Linked DNA regions of Homo sapiens: region 1 is linked to region 2. Evidence: fine-mapped expression QTL. A gene starts in region 2. The other region holds a variant in brackets. All regions are shown on one strand. Distances are from middle to middle.

Evidence for each region. PIP is the estimated chance that this variant, and not a neighbour inherited with it, causes the effect. A credible set is the group of variants that fine-mapping cannot tell apart.
Region 1: its variant is the best candidate, but not a certain one, in a credible set for the expression of BRPF3 in lung (TOPMed, PIP 0.70).

What each region holds. Positions count from the first base shown.
Region 1 is chr6:36,233,382-36,238,901 of GRCh38, forward strand. No RefSeq gene overlaps it. Among named protein-coding and RNA genes, the nearest start is that of PNPLA1, 34 kb to the right of the region's middle. RefSeq lists an enhancer at 2,069-2,614. The variant C/T (reference allele first, on the strand shown) is at 2,552.
Region 2 is chr6:36,194,629-36,199,628 of GRCh38, forward strand. BRPF3 (bromodomain and PHD finger containing 3) reads left to right here and starts at 2,116. Exons shown (of 13, transcript NM_015695.3): 1 at 2,116-2,342. It overlaps BRPF3-AS1 (BRPF3 antisense RNA 1), which reads right to left and starts at 2,575. Exons shown (of 3, transcript NR_187147.1): 1 at 1,409-2,575. RefSeq lists a silencer at 1,731-2,470 and an enhancer at 2,821-2,870.

The sequences.
Region 1 (5,520 bases), 39 kb after region 2:
ACTTACCAAGCTTGCTGAACTTGAGACTCAAGGATGCTCACACCTCTTATGTCACTGCTGCTGTTTTAATTCTGTAGATGGGTAGCTGGGACACACACAGGGGAATATAGGCCTCACTCCTCTTAAAGCTGGAAGGCATCCTTAAGCCTACCTGGTCTTCATTTTACAGACAAGGAAACAGACCAGCAAAATTAAAAGACCAAGGTCAGCCAACTAAGAAACTGTGGCATAATTCTGAGACAAGGATCTGGCCAAGGCTTTGTTTATGGGCTCCACAGCATTTCAAGACTCCACTGGCCTATTCTGTATCGTGTTCCTCTCTCAGTGGCTGTGGCTCTGGCATTTCTGGATAGGAATGTCCTGAAGAGCAGAAGCAGAGGGGAGTTCCCAGAGACAAACTGCTTGGTTGCTGGGCATAGAATAGCTTTTCCCCTGTCCCTACTCCTATCCCATTCTGGTCCTACCTGGCTCCTATGCTTGTCTCGGTGTGGCTGAGGACTCGGGTCTCTTGATCACTTCCTCCACGGGGCCTTTGACAGCCTTGTCATTGAAGTCAAAAAAGTGTCAAAGTTCTCATTTTGGCCTAACACTGACAAAGTACTGCCAATGTGCTGATAATCCTTGTATTACGTGTTGGGGCTGCAAAGACACACACCCCTGGTCTCAAGACACTCACAACCTGATTTATAAGATACATCTCACATAACGCCGCATAAGGCCAGTGTGAGGGTCCCAGATATGTGGAGGCGTTTGGGAGAGACATGTTTGGTTGGGGAGTAATGAAAGCCTTCAGAAGCAGCAATTAATTCAAGCCTTGACAAATGGGGTTAGGAAAGACTTTATTTATGAATTGTAAGTTGAATTACAAAGACGTTTGCAAAATATTTACAAAATATTTAGGGTGAAATTACAAGCTCATTCTATAAACCATTTTAGAAATAAAAGTGGCCAGATGGGTAGGATTTTAGCAGGCGAGGCTAAGAAGAGGAGACAAAGTCATGGCTCAGAAAGAGATTGTGCATATTCCAGCTCCAGTGACTAGCTGACCTCCCACGTGACTGGAACCCACCGAGGTGGCGAGCAGTATATCGGGCTTAAAAGCCCTGTCACTGTCACTCACTCTGTGACCCTGGGCCTCTCTGAGACTGACGTAATAAAGGATCCCAAAGACAGGGCAAGGTGGGTGCCATTCATATATGGCAGGTAGCAGCATCCATTGAAAGATTTGAACAGGGCAGAGACTTGATTGGAGCTTGGCAACTAACTAAACATCAAAGTTAAAAAGCAAGAGTGTTAAGACAGGATGCTGGGTGGCTGCTGGAGGGATCGCTGTGGGTTTTGAAGGGAGGAGAAAGTGTAGGTTTTTTGATGAGTTTGTGTTGTCTATGGGACATCTAAGAAAAACCTCCAGCAAACAGATGGGAGTTGAGCCCAGAATTCAGGAGAAAGATGGGAGCAGATGACAGAGATGTGGGCACAGTGGAGCCCACCTAGGCAGTTAGAAGAATGGCCAAGGACAGCAAGGAAGGCGAAGGACAGACATGAGGAAAGCCCCTTACACTTAGAGTCTGGGGTTGGGGGAAAGGGGGAGACAGCACCTTTTGAGGGGTCTGTTCTCCAGGGAGGGCCTCACAGGGAATGTCAAGCCCTCATGCCACAGATGGAGGAGAAAGGCAGGTCAGATGTGCTTAGCATCACAAGGCAGGAAAAGGCAGGGCTGGACCAGAACTCAGCACCCACTCAGCCCTTTCTGCTCTCCACGGACTTATATATTACCCAAAGTAGGCAAAAGTGTCCTTAATAAATTTTATCAATGATGTGACTGAAATTCATGAACTCAAGTCTAAAATGATACTGTAATATTGGGACATGTGTTGGAGACACTCTGACTCTCGGAATAGAGAATCCCATTCTCCTAACAAGTTAAAAAATATCATTGAAAGCATTTGCCAAAATCCCTTGTCAGCTTGGCTGCTTCCATTAATATATTAGATGCCATTAGCACCTGAGTGTGAATGTGCCAGTGCGTCAGATGGGCTCTCCTGACCTGGCTAGGCTCTGAGTTTCACTTTTAGAGAAGAGGTGGGGCTAGTGGCAAGACTGCCAGGCTCGGAGTAGTGCTGAAGGAGAGAGGGAGGGTGTGGGCCTTGACTACCCTGAGTCTGCAGGCCTCCCACAGTGTCTGCAGTCGGGCAATGAGTGTGCAGGTCTCTGGTCCTGCTGGCTGCAGCCTTCTGGCCTCTACTGAAGCTGGGATGAGGGAAGGAGGTCTTTGGAGGAGGGAAGTGGTTTCTCCAAAAGGTGGGGCAGAAGTTTCTTACTCTGTGATGAGGAAGAAGGGCCAGGGAGATACGTGCTGGGCTAGAGCTGGAGAGGAGTGCTGGATCCACCCTGGTGATACGAGAGAAGGGCAGGGAAGTGCTGGGTAGAGAAGAATGGGGTCCCTGGTGAGGGCTTCACCCTCAGGCCTGGTCCACGGACCTAGGTGAGGACAGGCACCCTTGTTTTTGAGCCCAAATGTTGCATTTTCCAAGACCACTCTGGCCCGCCA[C/T]GCCCCTGATCCTGGGCCCGTAAAAACCCCGAGACCCTAGCGGGCACACACACACAGCCGGCTGGAAGTCCAGAGAAGCAGAACACACCGAAAGGCACCAACAGATGCCGACAGGCTATCGACGACGCCACGATGACGTGAAATTTGGCACAGCGCGGTCGGAGTCCAGCTGCCGGGCAGCCCAATTCCAGGTGAAGACCACCTTCCCACTCCATCCTCCTTCTGGCCTCCCCATTCACCTCACTGAGAGCTACCTCCACTCAATAAAACCTTGCACCCATCCTCCAAGCCCACATGTGATCCTATTTTTCTGGTACACCAAGGCAAGAACCCAGGATACAGAAAGCCCTCTGTCCTTGTGATAAGGCAGAGGGCCTAATTAAGCTGATTAACACAAGCTGTCTGCGGATGGCTAAACTAGAAGAGCATAATGTAACACACACCCACTGGGGCTTGGGGAGCTGTAAACACTCAAACCTTAGACGCTGCAGTGGGGTCGGAGCCCACACTCCCCATGACCTGCCTGTCTGCATGCTCCCGCTAGGGGTTTGAGCTATGGGGTACCAAAGAAGTGAGCCACACCCCCATTGCATGCCCAGCGAGGGGGATAAGAGAACTTTTCCCATTTCACTGGCACCTGGGGTGACCTTCTGTCTGCCCTTTCCCTTCGAGGGTGGCAGAAGGTAATTGGGGATAGACGAAAAACGTCCGTGTGTGTGTGTGTGTGTGTGTGTGTACATATACATAAGTATTCTCTTCAACTTTAATAGGGCCAGGACTCACGGGCTACATGCAGTCAAACACTCTACTACTGAGCTCTACCCCCATCACAGGCTACATAGAGTCAAAAAAGCTAGTTGTCCCCAAATTTCAGAAGGGCCGTGGTGCTGTTTCTGAGAACATTTTATGTCCTTTGCTTGACACCTGTAAGGCTGGTTGGAAGAGGGTGGATTCAGTTGAACTCCTGAAGCCGTGTCTCAATCCCTTCCTCTTCCTTTCTGCCTAGTATTCGTCCGTTTGGGGGATAGAGAAGCCATACTGGGGATGCGACGTTGATGGTTCCTCATGGGCAGGGAGTATCACATAAGGGTCCAGGGGTGGGCTCCTTCCCTTCAGCTTCACAGTCCAGAGTGACGCCTGAAGGAGATTTTATCTAAGCTGGTCAGGAAAGATTATAAAATCCGTGGGGGTTTTTTGTATGTAATATGGGAAAATTTTTAAGTGCAAAGAAATTAAGAACTACCCTTTTTCTGACCACACAGAAACTACCATTTTAATGTAATTCCTTATAGTCTCTTGTTTTTTCTAGGTAGAGCATGTATTTTAGTTTCTTGTACTAGGTAGTTGAGTAGTCTGTTACCTCTCTGACATCACTGCGGAAATTCATGGTACGACTGGGATGCAAGTCCTCCCCACGCCTCCTCAGCCTAAGTCTGGCTTTTTCTCACTTGCTGTTGTTCATGGACTGGCCTAAACCAAGCATTGCCTGTTAGTTCCTCTGTTTTGTTAAAATACTGATAGTCTCCATAGCATTTGAAATTAGATGGGAGCTATATATCTTCCTCCCAACAACTTTGCTCTCTTGGGTAAATTTCCATGGAATTCAGTCCTAGACCAAATTCTGCCCCATGTACAAACATCTAATGAGTGAGGAAGCCACCATATGGCCATATAATTCTCCTCTTGATTGAGAAGTTCCCACCTCTGCTTTTGGGTACAGCCACCAGCATCGGGAACGAAGATCACTCCACAGCAGATACAACATGCTTCCGAGGTCAGGACCAGTTAGTGGAGTAGTCAGGTCAGGAGCAGGAGGAACAGACCCCGAAGTTTGAGTATTTTCATATTTTAGATATAGTTTTACATACAGTAACTCTGGGACACAAATCTTAAGATTAATCTCTATGAGTGTTTATATGTGTACCCACCCATGAAATTGTGATCCAAATCAAAATACAGAATGTTTCCAGTGCCCTAGAAGGTTCCTCATGACCCTGTCCAGTCAGGACCCCTGCTGCAAGTGTAACTACCATCCAGACTTCCATTGCTGTGGGTTAGTGTTGCTTGTTCTTGGACTTCACATAAATGGAATGACACAGCTTGCGCTCTTTTGTGTCTGGCTTCTTTCATTTAACATTGTGGCTCTGAGCTCCACCCTGTTTTGCATGTAGCTATAGTTTGCTTTTTGTTGTTGCTGAGTAATATTCCATCATCCAAACACACCACAGTTTGGGTATCCATTCTCCTGCTGATGGGCACTGGGTTATTTCTAGTTTAGGGCTGTTATAAATAACACTGCTGTGAACATTCTTGTACATGTCATTTGATGGACATAAGTGCTTGTATGTCCCAGGAGTGGAATTGCTAGGTCACGGGGCAGATATATGTTTAGCTTTAGTGGATTCTGCCAGTTTCCCATTTGGTGTTCAATTTATATCCCCTCCTGTATGAGTCTGATCTTGCACAGCTCCCCACCTGTATTAGTCTGATCTCGCACAGCTATAAAGAAATACCTGAGACTTGGTAATTTATAAAGAAAAGAGGTTTAATTGGCTCACGGTTCTGCAGACTGTATAGGAAGCATGGCTGGGGAGGCCTCAGGAAACATAGAATCATGGCGGAAGGGGAAGGCGAAGCAGGCACATCTTACATGGCCAAAGCAGGAGGAAGGGAGCAAAGTGGGAGGTGCTACACACTTTAAAATAACCAGATCTGAGAACTCACTATCGTGAGAACAGTAAGGGGGAAATCTGCCCCCATGATCCAGTCACCTCCCACCCGGCCCCTCCTCTAACACTGGGAATTAAAATTCAATATGAGATTTGGGTGGGGACACATATCCAAGCCGTATCAGAGTATAGTTGCTTCACATCTGTGCCAACACACAGTACTGCTGGTCCATGATGTTTGCTCCAGACCTGCTTGTTGAATGACTTCCATTAAGCTCCACTGTGCAGCCAGGCTTCTGT
Region 2 (5,000 bases):
AAATTTGTTTTTAATAACATAATTGTTCCATGTTACATTTAAGATTCCATCACAGGGAACTGGTTACGTGTGCAGTTATGCTTGTAGAAACCAATTCCAAATGTCAAAAATTAAAGTGAGGGCAACTGTAATGATATCATTAAAAAAGTAGAAGTTGAAAATGGAAGAGAAACACTTAGGTTGAATAAGGTCTTAATATGAAAGCTTTGAATAGAAAAACCTGAAAAAAATCACATGCATTAGGTTGACTTAAGGCCTTTTCAACAGCATTTAAATCGTTGACTTACAAGTAGAAACCAATGCATTTTCTCAAGGTATTTATTCATTCATTTTAGTGGAAAAAGATAGCTCCTGATCACGCAAATGGGAATTGTGCTAAATAAATTTTGAGAACATCCATCAAGAAATAAAAGTTACTAGTCATATGTATAAATGATTATTATATTTCATGTTTTAATAGTTTCTGTTAGTTTTCAGACTTTTTTTTTCTTAACTACAAGTACTGTAATTGCAATATTTTCTTGCCTCTGGGGCTTTCTCTTCCACAATTAATCATCTTTTTCTTCCACACCTTCCCTCCAAATGATTATTCCCCCTAGCTTCAGAACACTTGACATTAATTCATACTATTTCATCTTCACAGCTTTCAAAACATTGTCCTGCCCTTGCTTAGCTCCACGAGCCACCCCCCTTGCATTTAAAAAATTGGTTAACAGAAGCATTTTTGTACTATCTCTTTGCCAGAAGATGCTATTTACTTGGAAACAAATTAGCTTCCTTAATCAAACTTTTGAATTTGAAACTCTCTATATTTAAATTCCTTAGTATAACATCTATACTTCCAAAGTAGCAGTATGTTCACTTTAAACATTCAGAAAATTTGGATCCTAAGACTTTATCCTTCATCCTTCTGACTCTAGAATACATGTCCTTGATCATCAGAACCAAGAAAGAAATTGAGTCTCACCAGCTACACCACAAGTGCCAGCAGAGGAAACACTTTCAAACTGTCACTCACCTTCACATTTACAGGCAGCTTATCCATACGTCCTTTATAAACATCATTATGTATTGGTGCTTAAGACTTCAGTCACATGAGGTAAGCTTTCCAGTTTACAGGCAAAAGGGGGTGGCAATGGAGCCCTTTTCTTTATTTTTTTGTTTTTTTAGATCAAAACAAAAGCCAGTTTGGTCTGATGCTGCCATTTGTCAAGCATCTTTTAGAAAGCCGCCTAATGCATTAAATTAACCAAGTCAGGTTTAAAGTGTTTCCCATGCCCACAGTGACAGACGAGTTACCAGGCATGCTTAAGCAGACTGTCAAACTTTTGTTTACTCCTTTTAAACGGAAAGTCAGATTTTTTTTTTTTTTTTTTAAAAGATGTGTGGTGCGGAACAAGACGCTCACCTGTACACAACAAAGGCAGGTCTTTCCCGGCTGTCCTCACTGGGGGAGGGGATGGACAATCGCTAGACCTTTGTCCTCAGGTCCTGGGCATGGGGGTTAGGGGAGACGCGACTTTCTGGGAGTCGTGCAGGCACCTGCAGTCAAGAAACTACATATTGGTTTTGACCTCAATGACTGCCCTGGCTTAACCTTTGGAGAGGCCCTTTAGTTCGGGGAGGGGGCTTGCTGCTCCAAACCGTAGCCACGTCACCCACAAGGACTGGGGAGGAAATGACTGACCGCTCAAGAGTCAGGGACCCCTGTCTCTCCCAACTAGACCCGAACGTCCACAGCCCTCTTATCGGGCTCGCCCCGTGGCGGGCAGGGCCGTGGTGCGCAGGGATCGCGGCGGGCGCAGACCCGGTCTCTTGCTCGGTGTCCCCGCCGCGCCCGCACCGCCACCGTGAGGCCGAGCCGGGGATGGTGCCCCGTGGCGGCGGCGGCGGCGCCTCCGCGCTCCTCTCCGCACCGCCCCGGCCGCCGCCGCGCCAGGCACGGGCGGGGGGATTTTTTTCCCGTTTCCCCCTCTTTCGCGCTCTCGCTCCTGTTCAGCGGGAGAGCCCGCAGAGTCAGGGAGGGAGCGAGGGAAGGGGTGGAGGTGGCGGGGGGAGGCCGGAGGGGCGGATCCTGCCTGGGGGCTGATCCCTCCCTCCCCTCGGCCGGGCTCCGTGGCGGCAGCGGCAGCAGCGGCGGCTCCATTCCCCCTCCTCCCCCGGGAGCGGCGGCGGCGGCCGGGCCGGGGCCCCAGCGCGGGCCGGGAGGGGGCACGGCGGAGGCCACGGAGGCAGGCGCGGGAGAAGACCGCGCTCCGCTTCCCGGGCCGCGCCGACCTGCTCGGCGGCCTGCCCGCCCGCGCCCAGGGGCCCCGAACGGTGGGGCCGGGCAGGCGGCTGAGGTAATGGGGGCGGCAGCGGGGCCGGACAGAGCGGGGGCGGGGGCATCGGGGCCTTCGGGGACCAGGGACTGCACGGGGGGAAACCGGAGAAGCGGGGGGCTTTCCGAGCAGGGCGGGGGCGGTGCGAAAGCTCTCTCCTGGAGCGAGGGCGGCGGCAGGGAAGGAGAAGGCGGGTGAGCGGGGGAGCTGAGAAGCGAGGACCCCCTCCCGCAGCCGCCATCTTGTCTCCCCCCCCAGCCCTGGATTCCGAGCCGCTAAGCCCCGCCCCCGCCACGCCTTCCAATTGGCCTGGCCAGACGAGAGTCCCGCCCCTTGAGCGGCCCTAGGTCCCCTGGGTCCCTCTGACGGGCAGGTGACGCAGCCAATGGGTTCTCGCCTCTCCGCCCCGCTCATTCGCTGGCGCTCGCTTTCTCTGTCTGAGGGTCGGACTCCACGTCAGGCTGTCTCTGGTGCGCTCGCCCCTCCCCTCTGAGGAGATGTTATTTCCCTCCTTTCTTCTCCGAGGGGTCAAGATTCTTCTGGAAGAGGTGCCCCCTTAAAGGAGCAGGAGCCTTGGCTGGGGTCCTCCTTGTCTCCTGAGTATCTTGTGTGAGGTGCAGGGGATACAGTCTAATTGCAGAAGCTCCTCATTCTTCGGGGACCTGGATGGGGTGGGTGAGCGAGGGGTCAGGGGGTGCCGAGGGGAAATCTGGGGGGGCGGGGGTTGTTGGAGATATTTTGGAGGTGTGTATGTGGGAAGGGCTGTGTAGGTTGAGAAACTCCCGCCAAAAAACTCGTCTAGACTGTAAGCTCCTTGTGGGCGAAACTCTTTTCATTTCCCTCATCAGCAGTCCCTTCCCCCTCTAGAGTTTCTCCCCGGTGTCTGGAGGCGTGGGTGGGACAAAACACGTCTGTGTAGAGTCTTGCATGGTCGAGAGATGCTTGAGCAGCCGAGGAGGTGGCAGGTGGGGAAGGAGAAGATGGAGCGGCTTTCATGAAAGTGGGCGCCGCACCGCCTGTCTGCGCTGTTTGGGGTCGGTGTGGAGGCAGATGTTCTCACCTCTTCTAGGGCCTCGGTGCCTTTGGAGGGGTGGGTGATGAAGCAGGTCTGTTGGCCCTGTCTGCCCCCAGGGACTTGGCATTTGTAAGGAATCCAGTAGCCAAGGGCCTCTGGAACCCGGACAGAATTGCTGCGATGATTCTGTTTCCTTTGGCTCCAAATGGGGTGTGTGCCAGCCCGCCTGGCACTGCTCCTCAGCCAAATTGGTTTTTTGTTTGTTTCAGTCACACTTTGGGATTGGAAGGCCTTTCAAGTAAAGATGTTAATAATACCTTATTAACAAGTAGCACCTAGAGAGCTAGATTGTGTTACCCTCATTTTACTGATGGAGTATGGAGGCATAGAGAGCTTAAGGGACTTTCTCTAGGTCACAGAGGGCCAAGATTAGAACCTAGATTGCCCCAGAGCCTCGTTTTGTACCAGACCATAGCACCTCTGTGGTGTTCTTAATTCCCACTGAGAGGAATTGAGCATCGGAAGACCTGGGTTCAAATTGTAGCGTTATCACTTACTAGCTTTACGTTGAGTGACATCTTTCTGAGCTTCTGTGTAGATGATAATAGCTACACCATCTCCTAAGGTAGTTGTGAGAAATATTAAAAGTAAGAGGGCTTTGTAGTTTGGAAAAAGTGCTTTTATTATCACCGTCTCTACTTTATATAGATGGTAGACCCTGCAACCAAGGCGATGAATTGTTTTTCTCTTTGAAATCTTCTCTTTGTTCATATCCTTCCAAGTCTGCCCACACCATGGGGCCCTGTATCCCCAAAGGTCTCTCCTGGTGGTGACAGCCTTGGTAACTGCCTACCGCAGCTCCTTATGAGCTTGTCATCCAGAGAATGATGGGGGAAACTAGGACTTTCTCTTGGCTGTACAAGGATAGACTAGATATGAGTGTTCTGGGAGAGACTTTTGAGGTAACAGAATGCATTGAGAGTTTACCTCAGATACTGCCCAGATCATCTTGGCCTTCGGTCGAATGAAGGTCCTAGACAGGCCACTATAACTTCAGAGATCTCTTGGAGCCACTCTCAGAGCTTCTAGGGTTTGTTTCTGCCTGGAAATGTACTAGTTGGTGTATCCTGGATCAGGGGTTCCCAACCCCCAGGCCGCAGACTGTGGCCTGTTAAGAACCAGGCCATACAGCAAGAGGTGAGTGGCGGGCAAGCGAGCATTACCACCTGAGCTCTGCCTCCTGTCAGATCAGCGGCTGCTTTGGATTCTCATAGGAGCGCGAACCCTACTGTGAACTGCGCATGTGAGGGATCTAGGTTGCATGCTCCTTATGAGAATCTGACTAATGCCTGATGATCTGAGGTGGAACAGTGTTCACCACCCACCCTCATCTGTGGAAAAATTGTCTTCCACGAAACCAGTCCCTGGTGCCAAAAAGGCTGGGGACTGCTGTCCTGGATGGTGTCTTTTGTAGGGAATACCCTGCATACTGTAGTTTGAAGCCCTTAGACCATGTATCATAGATATTTCAGATGCCTTCACCCCTTCACCTCTAGGCAGGGTCAAGGAGTAGGGTTTCTGATCGTGGTAAGAGGTATTGGGAGAAGACTCTAGTGACTTTTGATCCTCTGATGGGGCCCATTGTTCACGTACAGAGCTTGACA